Linked DNA regions of Homo sapiens. The protein of the gene in region 3 interacts with the protein of the main gene of each other region in a pairwise test. Each region holds a gene or a part of one and is shown on either strand. Other genes may lie near its edges. The genes, in order: TFG, RIMBP3, SAXO4 and KRTAP19-5.

Region 1 (7,979 bases), on a different chromosome or scaffold from region 3:
CCAGCAAGCAAACTTATCCTACCTTCTTCTGCCTGTTTTGTGATAGCTGCACTGGCAGCTGATTGGGTGGTGCCCACCAACACTGAAGATGGGTCTTCCTCTTCTGGTTCACTGACTCAAATGTCAGTGTCCTCTGGCAACACCCTCACAGACACACCCAGAAACAGTACTTTACCAGCCATCTAGGCATTCCTCACTCTAATCAAGCTGACACCTAATATTAACTTAATTAATTTAAACTTAGCTAATTTAAACTTTTAATTGAGTATAATTTGGAGCTTAGTGCTCTTAAACCCACTGAGTAGATAATAACAGATTATAGGCCATACTAGGAATGTAAATGCAAGGTTCTTAAAAGTTCTGGTAAGATGTATCAGTGTGCTCCAAAGACCACCAGGAACACACCTGTAGTTGAATGAAGTTGGGTTTACTGACTTACTGCAGCAAGGGAGAATGAATACCACGGAGAACAATAGGATGTCTTACAAGTATGTTAGAAAAGTATTTTTTTTTGGGCTTGGGTTTGTGTTACCTGATTTTGGATAAGGTTCAAGGAAGTAGAGCTTTGCTCTGCATTGGATGCTCTCAGGAAGTAGAGATGATTCTATGTTTGGGTATCTTATCAAATCTTATCTAGAAGGTGAGAGGAATGAATCTTACTAAATCTTATCTGGAAGGTGAGAGGAATGAATTGAGGCTAAAGCTGCAGTTGGTAAAGTAGTAGCAGTTACTCATATTAGCCAGGATAAAAGGTTGTTTGGTCATTTTTCTGGTGTGGTCAGTGTTCTTGTTTTTGTCTGGAGTTTTGACATGGTTATGGACTGTTGATCTATCACAGATTATAGTCTTGTGTGATGTTGGTGTTCTTTGAAATATTTATATTCAACGGGAGAACACCACAGCCTACCTGTGAGTGCCAGGCCAGCTTCCAGCAACACTAAGGCCTGTCTTACTGTACCAGACCAGTTTCTGGCTGCTAGGAGCTGTTTTTCTCATCAAATATTGGAGAAAAAACAGTAATACCAAGTGAAAACCAATAATTGATGTAGGTAGGAGATTGTATTGAACTTCATAGCTATGCAGGGAGTATGTGAATTACTGTGAGTTTTCTTCTAAAAGCTTATAATTGGTGGTTTGATTTTGAAACATGTTTAACAAAGAATCGCCCTGAACTTTTATTTTCACGTAGATGTCCTTTTCTAATTAGGTGCTTCAGGAGTTTGTATGTATGTATACTGGCAATGTGCAAAGCATTTTAGTTTAATTTTTGAACGCCTGTCTTGGGGTTTGCAATCAGAGCCTTGTGTCACTTTCTTTTTAAAAATAACCTGAGTGGTGACAGTGTTTGTTGCTGAATGAAGGATTTCATTTTTTTCAGTCAACTGAAAATCATTTGGACAAAATGAATAATAAGTGAAGTAATGTTGCTTTCATTAAAAAATCACAACTAGAGATTACCGAGTAATCTCTGGCATTTTGTGGCTTATATACTGTTTCTGGAAGTAACTGCTTTGAAGGACAGTCATGATGTAGATAAGTTCTGCATATATTTTTAAATTTATATTTATTTTTTAAAATTTTTTGAGACAAGGTCTCCCTCTGTCATCCAGGCTGGAGTGCAGTGGAGTGATCTCAGCCAACTGGACTTCCCCTCCCGGGATCAAGCAATCCTCCCACCCCAGCCTCCTGAGTAGCTGGGACTGCAGGCATGTGCTGCCACACTTGGCTAATTTTTTAAGGTTTTTGTAGAGATGAAGTCTCACTGTATTGCTCAGGTTTTTCTTGAACTCCTGGGCTCAAGCAGTTCTCCCTCCTTGGCTTCCCAAAGTGGTGGGATTACAGGTGTGAGCCACCATGCCTGGCCCTGCATATATTTTTTTAACGATTTCTTTTAAGATCAGCTATTTTAGTTAGCTGTTTTTTTTCAAGACAAAGTTATGCAAGAGGGATAACAGACCTATCAGTCATGTTATATCTTTAAACATGTATAGAGTAAGGTATTTTTGTATTATTTTAAGAATAGCGTGAAATAAAATGAGCTTTTTAAGTTATATAATTTTTATTAAATTTAATAATTTCTATTAAATTTAATAAATATTTAAGAACAGCATGAAATAAAGTGAGCTTTTGAAGTTATGATTTTTATTAAATTTAATCATTTCTATTAAAAAGTAGAGCTCGGATTTTCCTACCAAACCTTTTTACCAGTAAGGTCATAGGCTATAGGTATGGCATCAAGAAAGACTGATAATTCTGCTTTTTTTCCAAAATAAGTTATTAGCCATAGAGAATTCTTTTTTTTTAAAAAAAAAGTTACTCCATTACATTGATATCTTGTTTTTGTTTTTTTAAAGGAATTGTATTTATTTTTCCTTGTTGCATATTATTAGTATACTTATTCATGAACTTCTAATTTTAAGCAAATAAATGTTTTTATTTCAGTTAATGGCCAGCCAAGACCCCTTGAATCAAGTCAGGTGAAATATCTCCGTCGAGAACTGATAGAACTTCGAAATAAAGTGAATCGTTTATTGGATAGCTTGGAACCACCTGGAGAACCAGGACCTTCCACCAATATTCCTGAAAATGGTAAACCCTGAATCCATTGTATTCTGACTTATTGTTCTTACGTCTTTTTGGAGGTTTTAAAAAACTCTTTTTAAGTAGGAGAAGGATGGCATCCCCAATGTCACTCTTGTTTCTTCCTCTGCCTCTCTACTAGTATTTATGTCTGTGTTCCTAAACTTTGCTGTTCATCAGAATTACTAGGAGGTTTCATTATACCAATTTCTGGATCTCATCATAGACCTACTGGAGCGTAGCACCTGGAAATCCCATTTTTAAAGTGTTTTTTGGGTGATTCTTTCGCAACTAGTCTTAGACTTTTGGATTTGTTACACAGGTCAGTTTTCAAATCCTTTTGACACATGAACCCTTTTTAGTATAATAGATAAGTAATGAACCTTGGGAATTGAAAATCATTTCATGAATAATTACATAGTGTTGGAAGTATTTTCAACTAAAAATCACTTAGATTAGTAATGTTCATTAAAAATGGTATGTTGTAAATTTGAAACACAGTTTTTAATAATAATTAAAGAAAAACTAATTTTTTCCCCATTGTATAATGACATGTACTGTTTGTGTTAAGATAAAGCAAAATGTGTCAACATTTGGAACTGACATAATTTTGGGACCGAATGTATTTTAAAATGTGGACTGAACTTTAAGTATGTGTTAATGACTTGAAAGTACAGTTAAAAAACTGCTTTCTTCTTTTAAGATTCTTAGATGTTGCATTTAAAGAAAACTCTTATTATTATTTTTTTCTTTTTACAAATTCTTTGTTTGCTTATAATTTTCATAGTTTAAAACTGTCCATATTGTGAAATAGTAATTTAAAAAAAGTCTAGACTGGATGACTGCATATAAAGGGCTTAACATGAGATAATTTTTGTGGATAAATGGTATGTATTCTATTTTTGGCCACTAAATATTTTGGAAGTTTTTGTTTTCTATTTTTATTTTAGTTACAGTTTAAATAAAGATGTATTTTCCATCATTTCTCTCTTCCTGTCTTCTAATAGTCATATGGAATTATGTTAATGATAGATGTTTAATAAATATTTGGTGATTGATTATTCCTAGTTGCACTTCTATTTCAGAACATAATGGAGATTTGCTGAATACTATAATGAGATCCTCTTGGTCACTTTATGATGAAACCTTTTATATTTCAGGTCAAAGAAGGTTGCCTATTCTGAGCCCTACCTCTCCAAACAAAAATTTCCAATTTTAGATCAAGAATCAATGAAAAAGTTAGACAATTTTTCCAGAAGAATTCATAGATGCTGACACAACATTTGCATATAATTTCAGGGGATTTAACCATCTGCAGAATATTAAGAAGTGTAGATGAGAATTTAACCAGTATAGCCAATACTGTTCAGAAATTAGCTACAGTGGCCCACATTCTACTCTAAGGAATGGATTTATGAGTTTTTTGCTTTAGGTGAAACTTTTTCCTCACCTCTTTCTTGCTACTGTTTATACTTTATTCTTTGTGTCTATATTTTTTATACATACTGTTAGCTTTTTACCTATGTTAATGTAAAAGGTGTTAAAATTGGTTTCTTCTCTGCATTTTGGAAATCATGCCATATGTTGTTTTCTTGTATGGCCATTTTCTAGTTATTGTGTCCTGTCTGACATATCTGATGATAAGATGATATAAGAATAATACAATCTGCATTATATTTTTAGAGATAGTTCTTATTTTTTTAGAAAACAAAAACAACAAGAAAACCATACATCAGAAACTGAAATCTAGTCCACAAAATGAAATTGCCAATCAGCTATCAGTGCTATTTAGAACCTGTGGCTTACCCTCACCAAGAAATGTGGCCACCTGTGGTCTTCAGCTCTCTATTACAGCGGTTCTTGGATGCTTGTTTTCCTTTAAGAGGCAAATGATGTGTAAACTACCTTAGATAGAAGATTGACCTGTTGCAGTATCTCCAGCAGCTAATGGAGCAAGTAGTAGGACGTATAGTATGTTTCCTGATGGTTTTAGTTTGTGATAAGTGAAAAGAGGCATAGGTAGTGAGATGTGAGGGGAAACAACTTGTAAGACTGACGTGGTATGCTCTTGGGATTAGAGGAAGGAAGTTGGTAGGGAAGATAGATAACTGGTAGACATGTTTTAAAGGAATACTTCTAGTAGTAGTTTTCTTTTTCCAAACATTTAGAAAATATTAGGGTAGCCTGGAATGGTATGTTAGGAATGAATGAGCTGCCAGCCAGTGTGTGCTGTGGGTACTTATATTCGGTTTAGCACTTAACATTTTTTTCAGAAGATACATTTTGTATTGATTACAGGGGTGATCTAAGAACTGATGTTCATTTACTTGCTTGGTAACAAAAGTGATAATCATTGTCCCTTAATTGAGTAAATGGTTAGCAACAGTCTTTTTGTTTACTTGTTCGTGTTTTTTGTTTGTTTCTTTTGATGTCTTTTGTATCTTGGACTTGGATTCCTATTTGTAAAATGTATGTTAAAATTCTTGAACTCTTTTTCTTTCACAAGACAGTAGTATAAATGCCTGTGGAATATCTTAGTATCCTGAGAAGAAAAGCATGATTTTAAATTTAACCTGCTCATAATATTTGACATTTTGTTTTTCTGTTGTTGTTTTAAACATTTTATTATAGAAAAGTTTAAGTATATAAGAAAGTAGACATTATAATGAATCCCAGAAACCCACATCCAGTTTCAACAGTTACCAACTTATAGTATCATATAATTACACTATACACATTTCCGCCCCTCCTGTTACCCAGAGTGGAGTACAATCTCAGCTCACTACAAACTTTGCCTCCTGGGTTCAAGTGATTCTCGTGACTCAGCCTCCTGAGTAGCTGGGATTACAGGCATGCATCACTGTGCCTAGCTAATTTTTGTATTTTTGGTAGAGATTGGGTTTTGCCAGGCTGGTCTCGAGCTCCTGACCTCAAGTGATCTACCCACCTCGGCCTCTCAAAGTGCTGGAATTACAGGCATGAGCTGTTGCACCCGGCTCCCCTCCTGTATTATTTTGATGCAGATCCCATATACATCATTTCATCTGTAAGCATTTTAATAAGTATTTTAATAAGTAATACATATTAAAATAGAAGGTAGCAAATTCAAAAATGTTTTTAATGTGCTATTTATGGAAGATTATGAATTAATTATGGTTGGCTTGATTTCCATGTAATTTAATAGTGGACCAGTAGACAGTAGAAATAAAATGTAAAATTTGAGATTATAACCTTAGTTCAGTTTCTTTTTATAAAATAAAGCCTTAGTTCCTATAATTATTATTTCCAGAGTGCCCAGTGGGTATCTGATACTAGGATATAGGTTATTGGGCTCCAAAAAAACCAAAAAAAGTAAAATGTTTCTCTTTATCAAGGAGCTTGTATTTTTTTCATCTAATGTTTCTTACAAAAGGAGGTAAATAATTTTTTTGGAAAGCTTTTGTTCATCTTCTGTTTCTTTTTGCCCTCTTCTCCCTGTTACTAGAAGGAAAAATATAAAAAAAATAAAGGAATTAAAATGATCTGTAATCCTATATTCCGACATGCTTAACATTCCAGACTATCATTATACACCTGCATTATTTCCCTTGTACTTTTAGGCCTTACTGAATATAGATAAAAAGGAAACAAGTTTTTGTTTATTCCTCTATTTTTACAGATACTGTGGATGGTAGGGAAGAAAAGTCTGCTTCTGATTCTTCTGGAAAACAGTCTACTCAGGTTATGGCAGCAAGTATGTCTGCTTTTGATCCTTTAAAAAACCAAGATGAAATCAATAAAAATGTTATGTCAGCGTTTGGCTTAACAGATGATCAGGTTTCAGGTAAGTTGGTTTCCAACTCCTTTACACCCTTCGTTTCCTTCATCTTTCCGTTCTTCCCTTTCCTTCTTTCTTTAATTGAAGAATAACTTGGATATGGTGAAGTGCACAAATCTTAAGGGTTCTGCTTAACAAATTTTTACATATGTGTACACTTATGTAAAAGACTAACTAGATTAAGATGTAGATGATTTCCAGCACTTCAGAAAGCTTTCTTATGTCCTCTCCCCAAGAGTAGCACCCTCCCCCTTAAAGAATAAGCACTGTTGGGTTCAAGTAAATTTTTGAAAGTAAAATTTAGAAAGTTTTTAAAAATCTGAACTATTTTATAATTTGATTAGTTGCAGTATTCGAATTATATTTGATTTGTCTTATCTCCTCATCTTAGAGAAATTGAAAATTAAATGTAGATTTTCTTGTTAAATTGCTTGAGTATACAGTGGGTTTTTATATAAATAAGTTTTTAACCTTAAAGCAGTACCTATATTGTTTTATTCTGTTTAACTTTTGGTTATAATTTCTTCATTATTTTTTCCTGCTTTTTCTCTTTTCGGATTCTAATAACACATACATTGGAGAGCTTGATACTGTCTCATGGGTCATTAAGGTTCATTTTTCTTCAGTCTTCTCTCTGTTCTTCAGGTTGGGTGATTTCTGTTGAACTCTTCAAGGTCGCTGTGATTTCTAATATGCTGTGGAACCTTTCTAGTGAATTGTTTAATTGTGCTTTCAGCTCTAGAATTTCCATTGGGTTTTTATAGTTTCTGTTTTTCTGTTGAGATTCTTTATTTTACATTCATTAAGTCTATATTTTCCTTTAATTGTTTGAATGTATTTATGTTTGATTCTTTAAAAATATTTAGCTGCTTTAAAATGTTTATCTGCAATATGTAACACTTGGACCCATTTGGAGTCAGTTTCTATTGACTGGGTTCCTCTCCCCCACACACACTCCCCCCAACTCCAGTAGGGTCACATTTTTCTGTTTCTTTGCCTGTCTGATAGTGTTTGGTTGAAAACTAGACATTCTGGTTAATATGTTGTAGTGACTTGGACTTATATTCTTTTGAGGATTTTCTGTTATTGTTGATCTAGCAGGGAGTTGATTTGTATGGACTTAACATAAATAACAAACAGAAAAGCGCTCTCTAAAAGAAAAAGGTATTTGGGAATAGAGCATTGCATTGAAAATATGCATGCCATAGTAAACTATGTGCATATTCAGTGAGGTAAAGGCAGACAAAGGTTTTTAAAGGAAAAAATGAGGAGAATATATAATTGTTTTGAAATAATTATTGTTGGCTACAAAGATCATTAGCAAGAGTGATGCCAGTCTGAGGTTGGACAGGCAGTTTCTGGGCAGATGTCCTCACAGTCACAGAAGTTTTTTTTTTTGCTTTTTTTTTTGCAAAGTTGTGATGGCCTTTGTGTAGGCTTGTGGTTTTTGAACTCTTTTGTGATAGTTTTTGCAAGAATCCTCTCTTCATGGCCTTATCAGAGTTTTTAATTTTTTTTTAACATTAATGACTTCATTTTGGTTTTGATAACTTTCACATACTCAAAACTGCTCCTTCTTTCT
Region 2 (8,484 bases), on a different chromosome or scaffold from region 3:
AGTTCCCCAATACACCTGCAGCAAGTCCCGTGGCAGCCGCACCTCCACCCGCGCCCGGTAGTGCGTGCCGGGGCACAGGCCCTGGAAGGTGTAGCAGCTCACGCCCGCTGGGGTCAGGGCATGCTCTCGGTCATCAAGATATACCACATGGGGGTGGCGGTGGCTGCTGTAGACCCAGGTGATGTTGGCTGATGTGGCTGTGACATTCTGCAGGTGTAGCTGCATGGGAGCCATACGGAGCACCCCTTTGGTCCCCAGAAGGGGTCTGGAGAGGCCCTGCTTCCCCATGCTCTGCAGCAAGCCCAGCTGGCAGGCTTCCGTCTTGGTATCCAGGATCTCTGTTGCTACTTCTGTCTTGGAGCCCACCCTGACCATCTGGCACAGCCCTCTGTCCACCACTCCCTGGGCTTTCCCAGATAATAAGCTGTCTTCCTCCAGAGCTTCATCCTGCCCCGCTGGGAGTTGACTGGGGCCAAGATCAGGGGATTTGGCAGGCAGGCAGCCTGGGATGTAGCTGTCCGGAATCTGCTCCACGAAGTTGGAGGGCACCAGCCCCCGCCGGCCATCCTCAAGCTCCCCCTCATAGAAGCCATCCTCATCCATGTCCCCGAAGATATATATGTAGTCCCCAGCTGTGAGGGGCAGCTCACCCTCAGGGTGATCATTGGGCCCCTCAAATGGGTTGTAGTTATACTGAGCCATGAAGATCTTGAGCTTGGGGGCAGCAGGAGCCGCCGAGCCCCCCATTTCCAGGGCCAGGGACACGCTGTCAGGCTCCAGGTCATCCACCTCACTGGCTGTGTCCCTGTCCAGAGTAGGGGAGGACGGCACGGTGGCCCACATCGACCCCTCAGAGGAGGAGTTTGACTGGGAGCTGGTTTTCTTGGACAGAGGTTGGCTGGCAGGGACTGTCTCTGAAACTTGGGGGACACTGGCTGACTCCCCAAGGGCAACTGGGCTCTCCTCGAGGGAGGCTTCCCTTTTCTCCTGTATGTCTCTGTTGGGCTGTGACACTGCGTAGTCTTCAGGCCGTGCGTGGAACTTGGGCCTTCTGCTACCTTTAACTTGGGACTCCGGCATTTGACTGGTCTCCCAGGGCTGTTCAGGAGGGTGACCAGGCCGACACTGGAGCGCCTGTATCTCCTTCCAGGAAGGATGGAGGTCACACAGGGCCTTCTGCGGGTCGCGTTGCAGCTGCTGCTGCCTGTCCTGCCCGCGCGCCGCCTGCTGCAGCAGCTGTTCGGCGATCAAGCCGGAGGCATCGCGCTCTTGACACGCGCGGCCCAGGTGGCCGCGCACTTCGCTATTCTCAGCCTCCACCTTCCGCACCCAGTCGGTCTTGGCCTGCAGCCGCCCATTCTCCTCCGCCAGCCAGGCGTTTTTGAGCAGCGCCGCCTGCAGCTGTGTCTCGGCCTCCTCGCCACGTCGCCGCGCCGGGGCCGCCTGCGCGCCCAGCTCCTGGCACTCGCGCCGCCGCTGGTCCAGCTCGCGCTCCAGCGCCAGCATCTGCCGTCGCACCTCCTCGCAGGTTGCGCTCTGGCCGCCCGCCTCGGGCCAAGCGCCACCGTTGCCCTGCTGAAGCATCAACTGCCTCTGCAGGCGCAGCACTTCCCGCTGGGACTCGCGCTGCAGGCGGTCTAAGTCTCTGACGTTGAGCCACTGGGTGCAGGGGCCGCCCCTTCCAGTATGCAGGTCGCTGCAGGGACCCGAGGCGACACGCGCCTGCAGGAGGTGGCACTCCTGCCGCAGCTCTTCGATCTGCTTGTCCTTGGCCAGCGGCGCGCTCGCCTGCTCCGACAGGTCCCGAGCGCGCTGGCGGGCAAAGACTTGGCACAGCTCCAGGCCGGCGCAACTCTCGCCGGGTATAGGCGCGCTCACGGCCCGGAGGTTGGTCTCCTGCAGCTTGCGGGCGCGGTCAGCTAGGCGCCGCGCGAGCCCGGTCAGCTCCGCGCGCTTTACCTTGAGCCGCTTCACCTTCTCGTCTGCCTGGTAGGGGCAGCCTGCACGCCGCAGCTGCTTGTTCTCCGCTTGCAGGGTATAACAGCGGCGCGCCAGCACCCACAACGCCTTGGCCAGCAGCCAGTTCAGCTTTATCAGCTCGTGGTGGCCCAGGCCCGGGGGTGAGGGAGTCAGGACTTCGCAGGGCTGGCTCTCAGAGCCTTCTCCTCCCCGCGGGTTGCTGAGTTTCCTGTGGGCTGACGGTGGTGGTGGCGGCGGGAGTGGCGATGGTGGCGGCGAGAGCCTCCGGGAGCCAGGGGTGGAGGTGTCTGGTGAGGAGGGCCGCTCCTCGGATTTGGAGGCCTTGGGGAGGCTCCGGGTGCTGTCAAGCGAGCGGGAACACGCAGGTGCGAAGCAATCAAGGGAGCTGGCGTGCGTGGAGAGCAGGCCGTCTGGGGAGCTGGAGCACGCAGAGGACACCAGGCCTAGCGAGCGGGAGCGCACACCGACTTCAGCACTCAGGCTGTCTAGAGATCCGAGTTGGCAGGCGGGTTTGGGGGCGTGGCAAGAGCCGCTGGAGGTCTGGGGCAGCGGTTCTTCCAAGGAATGCACAGCTTGGGGGTCCGGTGATCCCGACAAAGCCGGGTGCCCGCGGAAGTGCGCCAGGATGTACTTGAGGAAGAGCTGGCGCTCCACCTCCAGCGCCGCCTGCAGATAGCGGATGCGCGCCGCCTGCTCGCCGTCAGTCTGCCAGCGAAGCTGCGCCAACACTTCCTGCAGGCGACAGCGGCACTGCGCCGCGGAAACCTCGGACGCCCCCGGGCGGCTACAGTGGCCGCGGTTCACCAGCTCCTCGGCCAGCTGGCGCTGCAGCTCCCGGGCTTGGCGCACCACGCCATCGCGCTCCCGGTGCAGCAGCTGCTGCAGCTGCCGCTGCTCGGCCTCCTTCCAGCGCAGCAGCTGCCGGATCTCGGCCTCGCGTTCCCGCTGCATCTCCTCTTGCAGCTGCCGCAACTCCCGGCTGCGCTGTGCCTCCCACTTGGAGCGCAGACGGTCAGCCAGCTGTCGCCGCTCCCGCTCGGCCTCCTCACGCAGCTGGCGCTCCCGGGCAGCGAAGCGCCGCCGTTCCGCCCGCCAGCCTGCCCGCTCCGCCTCCAGCTCCGCCCGTAGCTTCTCCAGCTCCCGCCTCTGGTTCTCCAGCACTGCCGCCGCCGGGCTGGAGCAGCCCGGCTTCTTGGGCGACGCGCCCAAGGGGCTGGGCGAGTCCTTGGCCATTGCGGCCGCGGCCCGGCTGGTCTCCAGACTTCGCCTGGCAGGCCTCAGCTCGCCAACGGCCGCCGCCGACCGCCCGGCGCGCCCCTTCCGGCGCCCCCTGGGGGTCTCCGCGTGCCCCTTCCGCCTCTTGGCATGTTCCCCCGCCTCCTGCCGCGGATGTCTGGCCCAGGCGCCTCTCCACCTGGCAAGGCCAGGGCTGGACTCCCACACCCCTGCTCAAACTGGCCCATGTCCCTTCCAGGATGCACGGGGGCTTTTCCGGTCCCTACACTTTTCCTGCTTCTAGCACCAAGTCCCTTGTGACCCTCCCCAGGCACCCTCCCAGGCACTGTGCAGTCCCAAGCAGGCCGCGGTGCCCCGAGGGAAGTCTGGGCTGCTGCTCCTGTACTTGGAGAAAGGGGCAGGGTGTGTGTGTTAAGGCCACCCATGGGGTGTGGGCATACCTGGTCGTGGGTTCAGGTGGTGTATTTGGGTCAGGTGGCTGGAAAATGCAGCAGGATAGGCCTCAACTTGGCTAGACCTGGACTCCCCAGGACCCTTCAGCCCCCTAACAGCCCTGATCACCCAACTGGTCATCCACCTTTTGAGGAAAGGATGTGCCTGATACACATTTGTGTTACTGCGCAGAGTCGGCTCAGAGGAGGTGTAAGCGAAAAGACCCTCCCCAGCAAGGTGGCATAGGGACCCAGGGCCAGATAGGCATGAGGGGCACTGCCCAAACTGGCCATCTGGCCTGTCTACCTCCCACATCCAGGTACCACCTGGTGACAAACACTGGAGCCCCAGTGTCTGGGCTACTCATTGGCATCTTAGGTAGAGGCCTCAGGATGGGCCAGGAGTGAGGGTGAGGCTTCAGCAGAAATGTTGGAGGCATCCTGAGCTGCAGAAGAAACACACACACACACACACACACACACACACACACACACACAGCTGCAGAAGAAACATACACACACACACATACTGAGCTGAAGGAATACACACATACACTGAGCTGCAGAAGAAACATACATACACACACTGAACTGAAGAAATACACACACACACACACACACACACACACACTGCCTCTCTGACTGGTGGCCACCTGTGTGGCTTGGGAGCTAAGAAGCCCTGCTTCAGTCTGGCTCCTCTTTGCCCTTCCTGTCTGCTCCTGGTGCCAAGTGGCTTTTGGGAGACATGGATGGACACCTGATACCTGGCAGTCTGCATCGAGACATTGATTTTTTTTTTTTTGAGATGGGGCCCCACTCTGTCGCCAGGCTGGAGTGCAGTGGCGCAATCTTGGCTCATTGCAACCTCTACCTTCCACGTTCAAGAGATTCTCCTGCCTCAGCCTCCCAAGTAGCTGGGATTACAGGCTTGAGCCACCATGCCCAGCTAATTTTTTGTACTTTTTAGTAGAGACAGGGTTTCAGTATGTTGGCCAGGATGGTCTTGAACTTCTGACCTCAAGTGATCCACCCGCCTCGGCCTCTTAAAGTGCTGCGATTACAGGCATGAGCCACTGTGCCCGACAAGACCTTGATATTGAAGTCACATCAGAGGCCCCTTTGCTTCTTGGTCTGTCGTGTCTCCCTGTCCCCAGGAAGCACCTGGGACCTCTCACAACTGCTGTGTTCACTCAGCTTATGGCCCTCCTTTACAACACTCAAGTTTTTCAAATCAGTTTCCCCGGAACCCACAGAACATGCCTTTAGGCAGTGTCAAGTAACAAGAACATCGGGAATTATGGCTCCAGATGTTCTTTTTTTTTTTTTTTTTTTTGAGATGGAGTCTCGCTCTGTCGCCCAGGCTGGAATGCAGTGGCGCAATCTCTGCTCACTGCAAGCTCCGCCTCCTGAGTTCACGCCATTCTCCTGCCTCAGCCTCTCAAGTAGCTGGGACTACAGGTGCCCGCCACCATGCCTGGCTAATTTTTTTTGTATTTTCAGTAGAGATGGTCTCGATCTCCTGACCTTGTGATCTGCCCGCCTCAGCCTCACAAAGTGCTGGGATTACAGGCGTGAGTCACGGCGCATGGCCCTTTATTTTATTTTATTTTATTTTATTTTATTTTATTTTATTTTATTTGTGAGACAGAGTTTTGCTCTGTCACCAGGCTGGCATGCAGTGGCACGATTTCGGCTCACTGCAACCTCCAACTCCCTCGTTCAAGTGATTCTCCTGCCTCAGCCTCCTGAGTAGCTGGGATTACAGGCATGCGCCACCACGCCCAGCTAATTTTTGTATTTTTAATAGAGACAGGGTTTCATCATGTTGGCCAGGATGATTTCGATCTCCTGACCTTGTGATCCGCCCACTTTGGCCTCCCAAAATGGTGGGATTACAGGCGTGAGCCACCGTGCCCAGCCCAGATGTTCTTTATGAGAGGTGAGGCAGATGTAGTGTGTATGTGAGAGGAAGGGGAGGTGAGATGCAGGGATGGCCTTAGCCTTGAACTGGTGCTGGGCTCCTGGGCATGGTAGCCACAGGGAGGACTATCTTGAGAGAATCTTCATCACAGCCCTGTTTTACGGAAGAGAACCTGAGGCTCAGTGAGAGCCACTGGCTTGCCAGGGCACATGGGCAACTGAGGCAGAGCTGGTGGGTGGGGTTTCACAGCCTGGATGCCCTGCTGCAGTCTCCAGTAGGGCCTCAACTGTCAGGTCAGGAGGGCAGGCTGGGCCGGGCATGGTGGCACAGACCTGTAATCCCAGCCCTTTGGGTGACCAGGGTGGGAGGATCACTTGAGCCCAGGAACTCAAGACCTGCCTGAGCATCATAGAGAGACCCTGTCTCTACAAAAAAAATTTTAGCTGGGCGTGCTGGTGCATGCCTGTAGTGCCAGCTACCCAGGAGGCTGAGATGGGAGGGTCACTTAAGCCCGGGAGTTTGAGACTAGCCTGGGCAACAGAGTGAGCGAGACCCAGTCTGCATTTCCAGCTGAGATGAAATGATTGCTTGAGCCTGCAAGGTGAGGTCAAAGTCGCAGTGAGCTGTGATGGCACCACTGCACTCCAGCCTGGGCAACAGAGCAAGACTGTCTCAAAAAAAAAAAAAAAAAAAAAAAGCCTGGTGCGGTGGCTCACTCCTGTAATCCCAGCACTTTGGGAGGCCAAGGCAGGCGTATCACGAGGTCAGGAGATAGAGTCCATCCTGGCTAACATGGTGAAACCCCGTCTCTACTAAAAATACAAAAAATTAGCCATTAGCCAGGCGTGGTGGCGGGCACCTGTAGTCTCACTTATTTGGGAGGCCGAGGCAGGAGAATGACATGAACTCAGGAGGTGGAGCTTGCAGTGGGCCGAGATCCCGCCACTGCACTCCAGCCTGGGCGACAGAGCGAGACTCCATCTCAAAAATAAAAATTAAAATTAAAATTAAAAAAAGAGAGTAGGCTGTCACCAAGAAAAAGGACACTGGGGTGGATGGGTCTCTGGGAACCCCACAGTTACCATCCAGCAGCTGCCCCAAAGTATGTCAAAAGCATTCGGGAATGTTGGTTGAGTGGATGAGCAAAGCCAGGCTTCCCCAGGGCTGGGTTTCTGCCATCCCTGTTCTCATCATGTTGTGCAGTGATTGTCCAGTGACCTGCCTGTCACCCCCATCAACTCTGATCTTGGGGAGAGCAGAAGCCATGTTTTCCCTTGTCCCTATTGCATCCGTGCATGTGACTTAGCACATCACTGGTGCCCAAGACATATGAGAATGAGTTGCAGGGAGGCAGGAGTCCCTGCATGAGCTCACCATGCTGCTGCCTTCTCCAGGTTCAACTTTCTCACCTATTAAATGAAAGAGATGGTTTCTTTTTTTTTTCTTTGAGATGGAGTCTCACTCTGTCACCCAGGCTGGAGTGCAGTGGCATGATCTCGGCTCACTGCAATCTTCACCTCCTGGGTTCACGTGATTCTCCTGCCTCAGCCTCTCAAATAGCTGGGATTACAAACACCTGCCACCATGCCTAGCTGATTTTCATAGTTTTAGTAGAGACAAGGTTTCGCCATGTTGGCCAGGCTGGTCTTGAACTCCTGACCTCAAGTGATCCACAGGCCTCAGCCTCCCAAAGTGCTGGGATTACAGGCATGAGCCACCATGCCCAGCCTGAAAGTGGTGGTTTCAAACTGGGTTCTTTAGGGCTCCAGGGTTCCTTGGAAATATAGAACTGCTGGGCACACACCTATACTCCCAGCTACTTGGGAGGCTGAGGCAGGAGGCTTGCTTGGATCCAGGACTTCTGGATTGTAATGTACTATACTGATGGGGTGTCTGCACTAAACTTGGCATAAATTGGTGACTTCCTGGGAGCAGGAAACCACCAGCTTGTCTAAGGAGAGGTGAACTGGCCCAGGTTAGAAAAGGAGCAGGTTGGCCGGGCTCGGTGGCTCATGCCTGTAATCCCAGCACTTTGGGAGGCCAAGGTGGGCAGGTCACCTGAGGTCAGGAGTTCGGGACCCGCCTGGCTAACATGGTGAAAACCCGTCTCTACTAAAAATGCAAAAATTAGCTAGGCATTGTGGCGCATGCATGCCTAATCCCAGCTACGCGGCAGGCTGAGGCAGGAGAATTGCTTGAATCTGGGAGGTGGAGGTTGCAGCAAGCTGAGATTGCACCACTGCACTCCAGCCTGGGCGATAGAGTGAGATTCCATCTCAAAAAAAAAAAAAAAAAAAAAAGAAAGAAAGAAAAAGGAAAACGAAAAGGAGCAGGTCAAAACTCCTGTGCTGGCTGGGCGCAGTGGCTCACGCCTGTAATCCCAGCACTTTGGGCAGTTCAAGACCAGCCTGACCAATATAGTGAAACCCCATCTCTACTAAAAATACAAAAAATTAGCTGGGTGTGGTGGCAGGCGCCTGTAGACTCAGCTTCTCGGGAGGCTGAGGCAGGAGAATCGCTTGAACCCGCGAGGCAGAGGTTGCAGTGAGCCAAGATCATGCCATTGCACTCTAGCCTGGGTGACAGTGCAAGACTCCATCTCAAAAAAAAAAAAAATTTTTTTTTTTGTAGGCTGGGCGCCGTGACTCATGCCTGTAATCCCAGCACTTTAGGAGGCCAAGGTGGGTGGATCACTTGAGATCAGGAGTTCAAGACCAGCCTGGCCAACATGGTGAAACCCTGTCTCTACTAAAAATACAAAAATTAGCTGGGCATGGTGGCAGGTGCCTGTAATCCCAGCTACTCGGGAGGCCGAGGCAGGAGAATTGCTTGAACCCAGGAGGTGGAGGTTGCAGTGAGCTGAGATCACGCCATTGTACTCCAGCCTGGGCAACAGAGTGAGAGTCTGAGTCAAAA
Region 3 (8,049 bases):
GCCCTGCTGCTGGTGGAGCAGAGGCACTTCCCTGGGCTCCAGCCCCGTGATGGCCTGAGGCCCGTGCTCCTGGGTGTCGAAATGGACCTTCCGGACCTGGGAGGAAGAAGGGCCAATTACAAGTGAGGGGGCGGCAGTCACTCCCTGACTCTGCTTCTGCCCTTGACCTTTACAGAGCGCAGTATCTGCAGAGCAGCCAGAGGGGGTCCTTTTACAATGAAACCTGCATGTCCCCTCTCTGCTTAGAGCCCTGCAGCCTTCCCATCACACTCGCAGGGAATTCCACGTCCTCCTGGTGGCCTGCAAGGACCTGAGTGCCTCACCCTGCTCTAGCTGCTTGTCTCCTTTCTGTTCCCACCTTGAGGCCTTTGCACTTGCTGTTGGCACTGCCTGGACCACTCCTCCCTCAGACAGCTGCAACTGGAGGAGCTGGCCTCCCTCAAGTTTTTGTCCAGTGTCTCCATAGCAAGCTCTTTCCCGACCCTCCCGATTTGCAGTTGCAACTCCTTCGCTTCTAATTTATTTATTACTTACATTTTTTGAGACAGAGTCTCGCTCTGTTGCCCAGGCTGGAGTGCAGTGGCATGATCTCAGCTTCCTGCAAACTCCACCTCCTGAGTTCAATCAATTCTTGTGCCTCAGCCTCCCAAGTAGCTGGGACTACAGATGCAAGCCACCACACCTGGCTATTTTTTTTTTGTATTTTTTTGGTAGAGATGGGGTTTCACCATGATGGCCAGGCTGACCCAACAGCAGTTGGCCTCAAGTGATCCACCTGACTCAGCCTCCCAAAGTGCTGGGATTACAGGTGTGAGCCACCACGCCTGGCTTTATTTTTTTTTAGTCCAAGTCTCATTCTATTGCCCAGGCAATCTCAGCCTCACTGCAACCTCCGCCTCCCGAGTTCAAGCAATTCTCCTGCCTCAGCCTTCTGAGTAGCTGGGATTATAGGTGCGTGCCACCATGCCCAGCTAGTTTTTGTATTTTTAGTAGAGATGGAGTTTCACCATGTTGGCCAGACTGGTCTCAAACTCCTGACCTCAAGTGATCTGCCTGCTTCAGCTTCCCAAAGTGCTGGGATTACAGGTGTGAGCCATCGCACCTGGCCTCCAACTCCTTCACTTCTCTTCCTCCCTGCTTCTCCCTGTTGTATTTCCTAACCCCCGCCCCACCCCGCACTCCACCCGCTCTTATCATCTTCAAATATGAAGGAGATATTCAGAACATTCTCGCTGGATGAATGAATGAGTGTCCATTTTGGTGGTGGTGCTGATGATAAGAAGGGTGGTAATAATGAGGATAGAAATGAAAAAGATGGGGCTGGGCGCAGTGGCTCACGCCTGTAATCCCAGCACTTTGGGAGGCTGAGGCGGGCAGATCACGAGGTCAGGAGATTGAGACTATCCTGGCTAACACGGTGAAACCCTGTCTGTACTAAAAATACAAAATATTAGCCGGGTGTGGTGGCACATGCCTGTAATCCCAGCTACTGGGGAGGCTGAGGCAGGAGAATCGCTTGAACCCAGGAGGTGGAGGTTGCAGTGAGCCGAGATCGTGCCACTGCACTCCAGCCTGGGCAACAGAGTGAGACTCCATCTCAAAAAAAAAAAAAAAAAAAAGAAAAAGAAATGAAAAAGATGGGGTGAGGATGTCCATGGTGGGGGGACAGTGGTGGTAGTAGGGACAGTGATGGGGCTTGCAGGTGTGGACGGGAGTGTGAGGCTCATGGGAATGGGGACAGGGATGGGGATGGAAATGGAGGTGGAGGTAATGGTGGGGCTGGGGCAGGGAATAGAGGTGGTGGGGATGGTGGGGACAAGGATGAGGACAAAGGGGAGAAAGATGAGTGGACCCCATCCCTACAAGGTGGCTGCTCCATGCCCTGTCACCTCCACCTTGACCAACTGTTGGCAGTGCAGCCCTAGCCCCACCCCACCCTGAGGCTTCCCTCTCCTGGCCCTGGCCCAGCACTGACCTCCTTGGTGGGGGGACCCGCACTGGGCTTCTCCCGCCCATAGCCTGAGCTGGTCTGGCGCATGCTCCAGGGCAGGGGATGCTTGCCGTCAGGCACCTCCAGGGGGCGGTAGCTCTGGCTGGCCACAGACTGGAAATGGTCCTGGGCTTGTTCCCTGAGGGTGAGGAGGAGCTAGAACCCCAGGCCGCCTGCCTCTGTCCTCTGCTAAGGAGCTTCCCTCCTCCCTGCACCCTCCCACAGATGGCTCAGAGGTCCGCTGTGCCCTGAGTCACCCAGGACCCCCAGCCTAGGGCAGGCAAAGCTCAGGGTCCCCATCCAAGGAACCTGGAGTTGGTCTGATGAGCAGGGCAGGGGCTGGGAAGGGGCCATACAGACCGTACCCCCTGGCCGGGTTGTCTAAGGCCTCCAGACTGGCTTGGCATGAGACCACGGGCTGGAAATTTGATTTGTAGCCGGTGCCTACGTGACTGCCCACACGGGGCTTGAAATCCTCCCGACCTGCCAGAGGGGTAACGGGGAGACAGACCCCAAGGTCAAAAACAGGCAGGGCTTCCCAGGCAGGGCCAGCGTCCTCCGAGGGGCACAGGGGTCACAGTGACAGGGGAGGGCTCAGAGCCACGGGCAGGAGCTTTGCAAGCCTGCCCTTTCAGGACTGTGATGGCAGGAAATGGAGTGGGTGGGCTGGGGACAAGGTCAGTGTGGCAGAATCACAGTGACAGAATTGCAGGGACAGAACCAGAGAAGGGAGCAGCCGGGCAGGGCCCAGGGGACAAACGGATTCAGCAGTTGCTCTGCAGTGTGACAGCCAGAGGGTCTGCTCCTCCCTCAGAGAGAGCCCCTCCCTTCCTGCCCATGTCCTAGCAGAGGCTCCTGCGCAAAGGCACCCTCACCGTAGGCGGTGCAGTAGCTGGTGGCGTAGAATTTCAGGGGGTCCGTGTAGCCCCCCGAACTCATCTTCACATAAGGGGAGACGACCCCCAGGGGGAGTTTCCCCATCATGATGCTGTGGGGCAGGGCCCCAGGGGGCCTAGAAAGGAAGCACGGGGAGCCTCATGGGTCCCAAGCCTGGCTCGGAAGCCCACAGGGGCGAAGATCTGCCCCCCACCACCCACAACGCAGCTGGCCCCTTCTCCCAGGCCTCTGTCTCTCTGCCCCAGCTCCCAAGTCCCTAAACTAAGGACGAAACCGATCATCCACACTTATCCCAAGAGTCCTCATGTCTCCTCTCACTTTCCCACACCTTCTTATTAACTCTTCCTGTCCCCATTTACCACTGGGACAGTGAGGTTCCAAGTGATAAAGGATTTGCTCCATAATAGGTGGTAGTGCTGGGATTCAGACCTAGGTGTTTGACTACTCGGCCCCTGACCTGAACCTTACATACCCACCTCTCGGAATGAATGAGCCGACAACCCACTACCTGGGGAATTCTTGGCCCCCACCCAAGAAGTCAGGCCGAGGCGCTCACTCCCAGCCCCCGGCTCCTCTCTCTCCCTCATCTCCATGGCCTTGCCCGCCTCTGGCCTTGCCTGCCTCCCCTGGGAATTGGCTGCACTCTCCCCGAGGCCCAACCACAGCGGCCCCACCCTCACCTTTCCTCTGCAGAGGCTCTGAGGTCGGGGAGAGGCTGCAGGAAGCAGAGCTCTGCAGAGAAGCCAGCCCTCCTGGAGGAGGCCAAGCAGGAGAAACAATGTGTAGCCTAGCAACTGGTGCCTAGCAACAGCGTCCCCAGGCTTCTGAGACCTTCTAGGGCCAGGGCCCACTGAGGGGCTGACCTGGCCAGGAGGGGAGGGTCAGAAGCTGCCCGAGCAAGGCCCTGCTTCCAGGGCTCCGGCCCCAACCTCCGGCCTCCTCCACAGGGCTGGGAAGAGTTGCTGTCTGCGTGACATAAAATAAAAGATAATCCCGAACACTCACTCCCATAAAGTACCCACTTCTCGGCAGATACTTTACATCCTCTATCTCCATCCTCTGAGCAGCTCTTCAGTAGCTATGATTATCCCCATTTTCACTGGGGGAACATGAGGCTTAGATAAGCAAAATGACTTGACTCCAGAGATCTCGCAATCAGAAAATAGCCAAGTTGAGATTCAAACGTGGGTGGATGTGGATCCCGCTCTTCTGCCTCTCGGTAAATCAACATTTACTATGTTCCTCTGGAGCTGAATCTGTGCTAAGCCCTTTAACACACATTACGTCGTGTAATCCCCCAAACCACCCTGTGAACTGGGCACTATTATTGTAGGGCCAATAAACCGCAGCAGTTAAGAGTGTGGTTCAAATCTGATCTGTCACCTTTGATGAGGTACTTATCCTCTTCACGCCCCCAAATCCCCATCTTCGCAAGGGACGTGACTGCACCCACCTCACAGGGCTGCTGGCAGATTTAGCAAGAGCATGGATTCAGCACCTGACAGGTAGTAAATGCTCTTTTTTTTTTTTAAGAGAGACAGGATCTTATGCTCTCACCTGGGTTGGAGTACAGAGGTACCATCATAGCTCAGTCCAGCCTCCAACTCCTAAGTTCAAGCAATCCTCTTGCCTCAGACTCTCAAGTAGCCAGAACTACAGGTGTGCTCCCCCCTGCCTGACTTGCTTATTTATGTATTTATTTGTTGTAGAGACAGCGTCTTGCTATGTTGCTCAGGCTGGTCTTGAACTCCTGGCCTCAAGTGATCCTCCTGCCTCAGCCTCCTGAGTTGCTGGGATTGCAGGGGCAAGCCACCACACTCGGCAAATGCTCAATTTGCAAAAGCTGCTGTACTTTTAGTCTTATTTTGCAGATAGGAAAGGCGAGGCTCAAGGGGAAATAGCCCAGGCCCCACAGTGGGTGGAGACGGAGCCTGGACTCAAATCTGAGTGCGCAAACTCCACAGTGAGAATCTTCTTCCATGACAGCCTTTTTGCCTCAAATTGGCTTTCAGGCTTGTAAATGTTGTAACAGTTAGATCTCTGGGTGGGGTGGGATAGCCCTACTTTGCAGCATTTGCCAATTTCTGTGATGTCAGTGGTCCCATCAGGGCTGCTTTCAAACCACCACTACAGTGTCTTTGAACCGGGACATGGGAAGGTCGCTCACCACTGTACGGGAGTAGTCCCATCATGCAGACATAATGGGCGTAAGTAACCTCGACAGCACAAATAATAGAAAAATGTACTCACATAATTAAGGGGTGATGAGTTTTAGGTATTTTTTTTTGTTTTTAATATAATTCATTAAATTGCAGGTTTAAGTTATTTATTTATTTATTTATTTATTTATTTATTTATTTATTTATTTGAGATGGAGTCTTGCTCTGTCCCCCAGGCTGGAGTGCAGTGGCACGATCTCAGCTCACTGCAACCTCCATCTCCTGGTTCAAGCAATTCTCCTGCCTCAGCCTCCTGAGTAGCTGGGATTACAGGTGCACGCCACCACGCCCAGCTAATTTTTGTATTTTTAGTAGAGATGGGGTTTCACTATGTTGGCCAGGTTGGTCTCGACCTCCTGAGCTCAAGTGATCTGCCTGCCTCAGCCTCCCAAAGTGCTGGGATTACAGGCGTCAGCCACCGCGCTCGGCCAGTAATTTAATTTTTAACAATGGCAGAGTTAAAAACCAGCTTGCCAATTTCCTGGAAGTTTCGCCTTCAGCTCTCCTGAGCCGGTAGAGCTGGCTTCAGAGCACCCCTGCTCTCAGGGGAGAGTGAGGTATGAATGAAGGCTGAATAAAGGGAAAGGAGGCATCTCCTTTCCTCACCCAGGAGATGCCCTTGCCGCATTCATCCTGTAGTGACCTGGCCTGCCAGGGTGGAGGCTCACTCGTGTCCTCACCCAGCCCCCCATGGGAAGGCAAGCTGAAGCACGTTTGGCACCCACCCTCCGGACTAACGATTCTGTTCAGGGATCACAGGGCACAAGGACACAGGAGTGAGTGCACACAGCCCTGCCCTCCAGCAAAGTGCTCCCATTCTACTACAGAGGCTCGTGGGAGTTCCACACACGAAGCACAAAGGGTGAGACCACCATAGGTGAGGTGCTCACAGGGTGAAGGGAGAGAGGGGCCCTCCTCTAAGTGTGCCTGGATAAGTGGCTACGAGCAAGAGCTTGGACTCTGAAGCCAGATGGTGTGGGTCCTGTCTCTGCCACTAGATAACCGTAAGACAGTGCATGTTCCTTGTGCCTCAGTTTCCCCTTCTGGAGAATGAGTATAATAATGGTAACTACCTGCAGGGTTGTGGTACGCACGAAGCATTTAGCCCAGTACCTGGCACACGGTAGGTGCCATCTAAGAGCTAGGGAAAGAGGTTCCTTTTGAGTACTCACTGCCTGCTAGGCAAAGGGTTGGGCCTAAGGGTTACAAACAGGAAATCCACATGGCCCTGGCCTCAGAGAGCCCACGGTTTAGGAAGGATCTCAGATGTAGCAAAAGAAAGCTCACTGTGGGAGCCCGAGTTCAAAACCTGCTTCTGCTGTGTGTGACTCGGGGCTTCCTCTCTTTGAGCCTGTTTCTGTACCTGCAGGCAGGGATAACTGTGCCTACCTAGCAGGGTCGCTGGTGGATTTGAAATACCCTATGCACAAGAGGTAACAGGCCTGCACCAGGCAGAGATAAGGAAGGGCCCTCTACGTGGAAAGCCCGACAAACACAAAGGCGGAGACAGGTGTCCAGCAGGCTGGGAGCCCTGACTAGTGCAGCGTGGCTGGAGCACTGCGTGGGGAGGAGAGGCTCAGCTGGGAGAAGCAGCCCCCAGGTAGGCTGTAGCCAGGTTTTCCTTTTAGCAGGTGGAGGGGGCAAGGAGGGGTGGTAGAAAGGTTTGAAATCATCCCTTAGGGCTTCTCTTAGGGAGGCTCTAGGCTGTAGCCGACCAAGGACCTGGGCAGGAGTTCAAGGGTCGGGGATCAGGGTCTGGCCGGCGCTGTCCCATCAGAGCCCCCATTAGGTCCCGTCCTCCCGGCGGCCCGTGGGTTTTTTGCTGTGTGGCGACACCCAGCGGCCATAACTCGGAACTGCAGGAGATGCCGCAGATGAATCCCTAAGACCGGGGTCGGGGGGTCCTAGGAGTTGGGGACAGAGCAGCTCCGTCGACCTGGCCACAGCCCCACCCCAAGCCTCACTCACCCATCCCTCCAGAACAGGAGGGTTGCGTCTGGGCAAGGAGTGTTCCGGGAGGGCAAGCGCTGGAGCCCACAAGGAGCGGGAGCCCAGGTGCCAGGTGACCCAAGAGCAGCGTGACTTTTGGACCTGTCACCTGTGGACCTCAGTCCTTCTATCTACAAAATGAAGGAACAGACTAAAAGTCCTTCCATACTGGAAAATCTAGGCCCACCTCATCCCACTCCCTTCCCATATCTGTCCCCATTTATTCAGCACTTTATTGTGCCAGAGCTGAGCTACGAATCACCTCATCATCGCTTTTCACTCCCGGCTCTACGTGGGAACTACTATAATCCTGCCCATGTTACATGTGAGGAAACTGCCTGAGGCCTCGCAGACAGGGAGGAGTGGAGCTGGGATCCAAACTCAGCTTTGACCCTGGAATCTATGCCCCGCCCTCTGGAACACACCAGCAAATTCTCCAGAAAGCGCCGGGACCTTAGCACTGGGCTTTTCCAAAGGGATGATTTTCCAAAGGGATGGGCTGCCCTGGCCAGATGGGCAACTGCCTCCTACTTTCTAGCTCTGCCCAGTCCTGGGCAGTAAGATTCCCGTTTCCAGCCGGGCACAGTGGCTCATGCCTGTAATCCCAGCACTTTGGGAGGCCAAAGCAGGCAGATCACCTGAAGTCAGGAGTTCGAGATCAGCCTGGCCAACATGGCAAAACCCCGTCTCTACTAAAAATACAAAAATTAGCAAGGCATGGTGGTGGGCGCCTGTAATCCCAGCTACTCGGGAGGCTGAGGCAGGGAGAACTCCTTGAATGCAGGAGTAAGAGGTTGCAGTGAGCCGAGATTACACCACTGCACTCCAGCCTGGGCGACAGAGCAAGACTCCATCTCAGAAAAAAAAAAAAAAGATTCCCCTGTTTCCCTCCCATACGAAGGCAGAGGCTACAGACACACTAGGTTAGCAGAGAGGACCCAGTGAGAGGACATG
Region 4 (6,059 bases), on a different chromosome or scaffold from region 3:
CAGGAGAATGGCGTGAACCTGGGAGGTGGAGCTTGCAGTGAGCCGAGATTGCACCACTGCACTCCAGCCTGGGTGACAGAGCAAGACTCCATCTCAAAAAAAAAAAAAAGTCACAAAAATAAGTTCTTTTTCAGTGTATATTCAGATATATACTTTGTTTTATCAGCACTTTTCTTACCATTAAAGGGGCCATATAAACATACATTTTGAACAAACTATAGAAATACATACTCTTCATGTTGGTCTCCAGTTAAATGTGAAAGTTTATGAAGTTGGTATTTCAAGGCTGAATTTAAACACTAACATGATCTCACTGAAAGCATTGAAATGAAAAAGATATGGTGAATATGGCGCAGTGTTCCAAAGAAAAAGCCTTCTTTTTAATTGAGTGTTATGGTTTTCATTTGTGCATGTACAGTTTACCTTTGGACAACATGGGCTTGGACTGAGTGAATCCACTCATACTGAGATTTTGTTCTACCTCTGCCACTCCTGAGATAGCAAGACCATCGTCCCCGTTCCTCCTCCTCCTCAGCCTATTCAATGTGAAGACAATGAGGATAAAGACCTTTATGATGAGTCGCTTCCACTTAACAAACAGTAAATATAAATTCTCTTCCTTATTATTTTCATAACATTTTCTTTTCTCTTATTTACTTTATTGTAAGAATACAGTATATAATGCATATAAAACACAAAGTATGTGTTAATCAACTGTTTATGTTATCAGTGAGGCTTCCAGTCAACAGTCGGCTACCAGTAGTTAGGTTTCTGGAGAGTCAAAAGTTATATGTGGATTTTCAACTGCATGGGGGAATCAGTACTGCTAACCCCTACATTATTCAAGGGTCAACTGTGACCTTTGAATGTGAATATATACATGCACACACATACATACAGCTATATAGATAGGTGCATGTATATACAAAATTATTTTGTTATATATAATATACTTCTATATGTATAGTAGTTTGTTCTTTTTTCACTGGATATAATTACAAATAACCACTTTGCCATTTTGAGTCAAGCAAAAAACAAAAGTCGTGTATTTGCTTTCAGTTAGCATAATTTATTCTAAAAGGAACAGAGAAACCCCACAGTTATAAAGGTACAAGTAAGACACATCCAGAGACATAAAGCAAAGAATTATGGAATGATAGGTATTCTTAAACCTCTTAGATGCTAACTGCTCTTGATCTTGGCTTGATCCAGGGTGACCTCGTTTGTTTGTTATTGCAGTCAGGTTTGGGTGATCTTCTTATGTCCCCTCATGTTAGGTTGTCAGGGAAGGATTTCAATAAAATCCAGAGAATCCATATCCTCCATAGCATGATGGACGGCAGCTGCGGTATCCATAGCCTCCGAAGCCAGAGCCGTATCCGTAGCCTCCGTAGCCACCGCCATAGCCCAGTCTGCGGAAGCTGCCACATCCACAGCCATAGCCATAGCCCAGGTCATCGAAGCCTCCGTAGCCGTAGCCCAGGCCTCCATAGTAGTTGCCGTAGTAGTTCATGGTGTCAGGAGTGGTGAGTTGGTATGCTGCTCAAGGCAAGATCCTGAGTGTGAACACCAGCATGTGTAGGAGGCTTATATACCCTGGTCAGAGCGTGTGATGAGTCATCTGTATACCCTCCTTTGCTATAGTTATTTGTATTACGTTTGATGTTACAACTCATTTATCTATTGTCTTCTGATGTAGGGAGATGCCCTCATTCTCATTAAAATATTTCAGCTTACTTAATGTCTTATTCAGGACACGATTGAACTTACTGCTTTGCTTTTATGAAAAGAAAGGGCTTACTGTTCAAAATATGCACATTCCAAATGCTCAACAGAATTGCCTATTACCAGGTGTATTACATCATCTACACTTTATGGTATTCCTTTTATAATGAATAATTTCCTTTGTCCGTCATCTTCCAAACTGATAACTTCATATTCAACTAAATTTACAGCTGTTTTTTCAATTTACAGATGTTAAATCTATAGTTTTAAAAAGCAAACTTATTTATCAAGGTGAGGTCTTCAGAAAGTGCCTATATGCACAATACAGGAAAACATTTGAAATCAAAATGATTTTAATGCCCTGCTGTGTACAATCGCCAAAGGACTCAAAAAAAGAGAGTGTATGCTGATTTTTAGCATTTTATTCACAATAACTTTTATACTATTTTTGACTTTGCACACCAGCTTCAGAACCTTTTGGTTGCAAAATACATAAGAATTAATTTCAGAAATTGAGGGCACAAAATCCATCTCCTACGCAGACTTATCAGAGTAGCACTTTAGTTTTCCATTCAAGTCCTAAAACTCTCCTTTATAATTGGTTTTATTCAAAGTCCTGGTAAAATTGCAGATTGCATCTGCCTCTGTTTTGCACATTCTAGTCAATTACTTTCTTTCTTTATCATTTTTCAGTAGTGTATATATGACCTCTATTTCCTTTCTCATTTCAGCTTTTATTCTTCTTCCCATTTTCTTAATGTCTATAGAAACAGCCAGGTAGAAGTTTATTGCATACATTCCCTCTGTCTTCCATCGACTTATCTCAACGCTTTTTTTTTTCTATCTCCTCTTTGTATTCACTGTAACATCTTTCCTGATTTTTTTGTTTGTTTGTTTTTTGAGACGGAGTCTCACTCTGTCGCCCAGTCTGGAGTGCAGTGGCACCATCTCGGCTTACTACAAGCTCCGCCTCCCGGGTTCACGCCATTCTCCTGCCTCAACCTCCCCAGTAGCTGGGACTACAGGCGCCCGCCACCACGCCTGGCTATTTTTTTTGGATTTTTAGTACAGACGGGGTTTCACCATGTTAGCCAGAATGGTCTTGATCTCCTGATCTCGTGATCTGCCCGCCTCGGCCCCGCAAAGTGCTAGGATTACAGGCGTGATTCTGATGTTCTTCTATGTCTATCCTGTACTCATTTATTCTGAGGTAATTTCTAACCACTGCCTACTGATCTGTTAATAGTTCATTAAAATATCATTTTTAAAGCTTTCTATTTTTTGTACTTACTAAACATCCTCAACTCCCCACCCCAGCAAAAATACTTAGAAATAATGAATAAGACCTACTATTTGATAGCACAATAGAGTGACTATAGTCAATAACAACTTAATTGTACATTTTAAAATGTCTTGAGTAAAATTAGACTGTTTGTTAACTCAACAGATAAATACTTGAGGGGATGGGTTTTTTAAAATGTACTCCAACTCCTATGGCTTTCTGAAATTTAAAAGGTATCCTAAAATAGAAATTGTCTTCAAAGTTTTCAAAATAAAGGCACCATGGTGAAATGGCACAGAATAGAGAAACATATGTAAAGAAATTTGCCCTGGGCTTCATAGAGTTCCTCAGCTGACTTTGTTGAATTAGTGAAACAGATACAACATTGAGACCACTCTTGATTAATCTCCATGCAGCACCTGTCTCTTGGCTTCGACAACTAAAAATTCATTTAATTTACATGACTTTGAACATGCTGGTGAGTTTTTGTGAGATTTATAAGTATTTTATCAAACATAAATTTCCTAAAAGGAATGCTTCAGTTCTTCTAAGCAACAGACTAGGGAATTAAAAATTGTTTATTGAAGAAATTCTAAGTAAATTGACAGTAACTGCCACAGCAACCACAATCTGTGCACAACCCTGACTACGCCTTAGTGAGCTACCTTTTTAAGACAGAAAAATAGCTCAATAAGTCTTTCCATTTATAGAGTAGGATTTAATCCAATATTTGCTACATTTCTTTTATCCAAATATTGGTTCATTCTTATTTCTCATCTGAACTTGAAACAGTCAATAAGCTGAGTTCTCAGTGAGTCCTTTTGAAGCCATAAAATCACAAATAACTCAAAATCACAAATAACTATATTAAGGATACCACAGTTTGTCCATATAAATCAGCCTGATAATGTAAGAGTGTTTAATAGCTAATTTTTGTTTGGGATGCATAAACAATGCATACATCTGAGATATAAAACCAAACAAGATATAAATGGAAAACCTCAATAGCCAAATAAGAATTAGAATGTTTTAAAGAAATAGACTATGTGATAATTTTCCACAAGACCAATTAATGATCGTAAGCAGTAAATGATTAATACTAAAATAAAATATATAAATCTACATATTTTATATACAAAATATATAGAACAAATATTTTGTCCTTTTTTCGAAGTGAACAAATAGTAAAATGAAAGCATCCATTGTAAAATGAAGACATATATTCATTTGTAGTGATATTGGTTTTATGCTGAAAGAGATTGTTAGACTCAAAGTCGATTAGACCCAAAGTTGATAGAACAATGATGTTTTATATTTTCTCCTTCTTTTCACTTTTAGGAAGTTTACTTTGGAATATATGCTTAATAACTTTATGATAATGGATAAGGAAGAAGAAAATATGTTCTTACTTGGGATAAGTAGTAACTTTTACCTGGAAAGAAAGAAAGCTTTTGTTATAAATTCCAAAGACTTCGTTTAACTCAGACACAAACTAATAATATATAAAAATGTAAGTTACAAAAATATGTTAATATTGAATTATACCAGCAATGCCACAAGTGCTTTTTCTCATTATAATTATACTGATCTTTCTTTTAATTGCAAATTTTTAATACTTTTACTCAGGCTGGGAGGATATTTACCTGTATGAGAATAGAGCAGTTTCATCTGAAATTCAGTTATAGGGTCAAAATTCCTTTAATGAAATTACCAAAATTTATCTACCTTGCCCTCCCCTGTGAAGGTACAGCATCTAAAGAGAGAAATAACAAGATTTGTCTGAGTTGTTTGTTCATATTTCATCTTTACATTGCATAAACAAACCCAAGTATTTCTCATAAAAATAAATAATCTTGAGAATTGAGCTTATTTGTTCTGTTTTTGCCTTCAAGTAAAGCTAAGTTAGCAATTCAGAAATGTATTATATATAACAAAATAAAAGTTAACAAGAAAAATTTTAAAAACAACAGCAACAAAACATAGTTAATCTAAGAGATGAAATTAGTCTCCATATACTCTGCTCCAAAATTGAAACCATCCACAGTATTATTACAAGAACTTTCCAGATGGCATTCAGATTTGGAATTATGCAGTGAAAGAGACTCAGAATGATGGACTAGAGCATTAGGTTCAGGTGAACTGCTTTCTGGTCTTGATTCTGACACTTAGATTTTAACTCTAGGCATCACTTAACTGTTCGGCATTTCCTCACCTGTACTATAGGGGGCAGCACGGTACAATCTGTAATAATCTAACGTTTGGTCCAGCTCTCACTTCTTTTGTCCTTGTATTATTGAATTTCCCCAGGAAGGGGTCCAGTTTCAGTTTCTGCAAATGGCTAGCCAGTTTTCCAAGCATCATTTATTAAATAGGGAATCCTTTCCCCATTGCTTGTTTTTGTCAGGTTTGTTGAAGATCAGATGGTTGTAGATGTGTGGTGTTATTTCTGAGGTCTGGGTTTTGTTCTATTAGTGTGTATATCTGTTTTGGTACCAGTACCATGCTATTTTGGTTGCTGTAGCCTTGTAGTATAGTTTAAAGTCAGGTAGCGTGATGTCTCCAGCTTTGTTCTTTTTGCTTAGGATTGTCTTAGCTATGCAGGCTCATTTCTGGTTCCATATGAAGCTTAAAGTAGTTTTTTCCAATTCTGCTGAGAAAGTCAATGGTAGCTTGATGGGAATAGCATTGAATCTATAAGTTACTTTGGGCAGTATGGCTATTTTCATGATATTGATACTTCCTATCATGAGCATGGAATGTTTTTCCATTTCTTTGTGTCCTCTCTTGTTTCCTTGAGTACTGGTTTGTAGTTTTCCTTGAAGAGGTCCTTCACGTCCCTTGTAAGTTGTAATCCTAGCTATTTTCTTCATTTTGTAGCAGTTGTGAATGGGATTTCATTTACGATTTGGCTCTCTGCTTGTCTGTTGTTGGTGTATAGGAATGCTTGTGATTTTTGCACAATGATTTTCGATCTTGAGACTTTGCTAAAGTTGTTTATCAGCTTAAGGAGTTTTGGGGCTGAGACGATGGGGTTTTCTAAATACAGAATCAT

Evidence for each region.
Region 1: the proteins of SAXO4 (region 3) and TFG interact in binary tests that used the Homo sapiens proteins (3 or more experiments, as listed by UniProt).
Region 2: the proteins of SAXO4 (region 3) and RIMBP3 interact in binary tests that used the Homo sapiens proteins (3 or more experiments, as listed by UniProt).
Region 4: the proteins of SAXO4 (region 3) and KRTAP19-5 interact in binary tests that used the Homo sapiens proteins (3 or more experiments, as listed by UniProt).

Annotation. Positions count from the first base shown.
Region 1 is NC_000003.12:100,726,270-100,734,248, forward strand, and holds part of TFG (protein TFG), read left to right. Parts: intron 1-2,442; coding exon 2,443-2,589; intron 2,590-6,238; coding exon 6,239-6,403; intron 6,404-7,979. UniProt on the Homo sapiens protein: Plays a role in the normal dynamic function of the endoplasmic reticulum (ER) and its associated microtubules. Required for secretory cargo traffic from the endoplasmic reticulum to the Golgi apparatus.
Region 2 is NC_000022.11:18,608,222-18,616,705, forward strand, and holds the start of RIMBP3 (RIMS-binding protein 3A), read right to left. Parts: upstream 3,699-8,484; 5' UTR 3,214-3,698; coding exon 1-3,213. UniProt on the Homo sapiens protein: Probable component of the manchette, a microtubule-based structure which plays a key role in sperm head morphogenesis during late stages of sperm development.
Region 3 is NC_000011.10:61,476,735-61,484,783, reverse strand, and holds the start of SAXO4 (stabilizer of axonemal microtubules 4), read right to left. Parts: upstream 3,665-8,049; 5' UTR 3,568-3,664; intron 3,003-3,567; 5' UTR 2,975-3,002; coding exon 2,866-2,974; intron 2,474-2,865; coding exon 2,356-2,473; intron 2,130-2,355; coding exon 1,976-2,129; intron 97-1,975; coding exon 1-96.
Region 4 is NC_000021.9:30,500,578-30,506,636, forward strand, and holds KRTAP19-5 (keratin-associated protein 19-5), read right to left. Parts: upstream 1,565-6,059; 5' UTR 1,514-1,564; coding exon 1,295-1,513; 3' UTR 1,080-1,294; downstream 1-1,079. UniProt on the Homo sapiens protein: In the hair cortex, hair keratin intermediate filaments are embedded in an interfilamentous matrix, consisting of hair keratin-associated proteins (KRTAP), which are essential for the formation of a rigid and resistant hair shaft through their extensive disulfide bond cross-linking with abundant cysteine residues of hair keratins.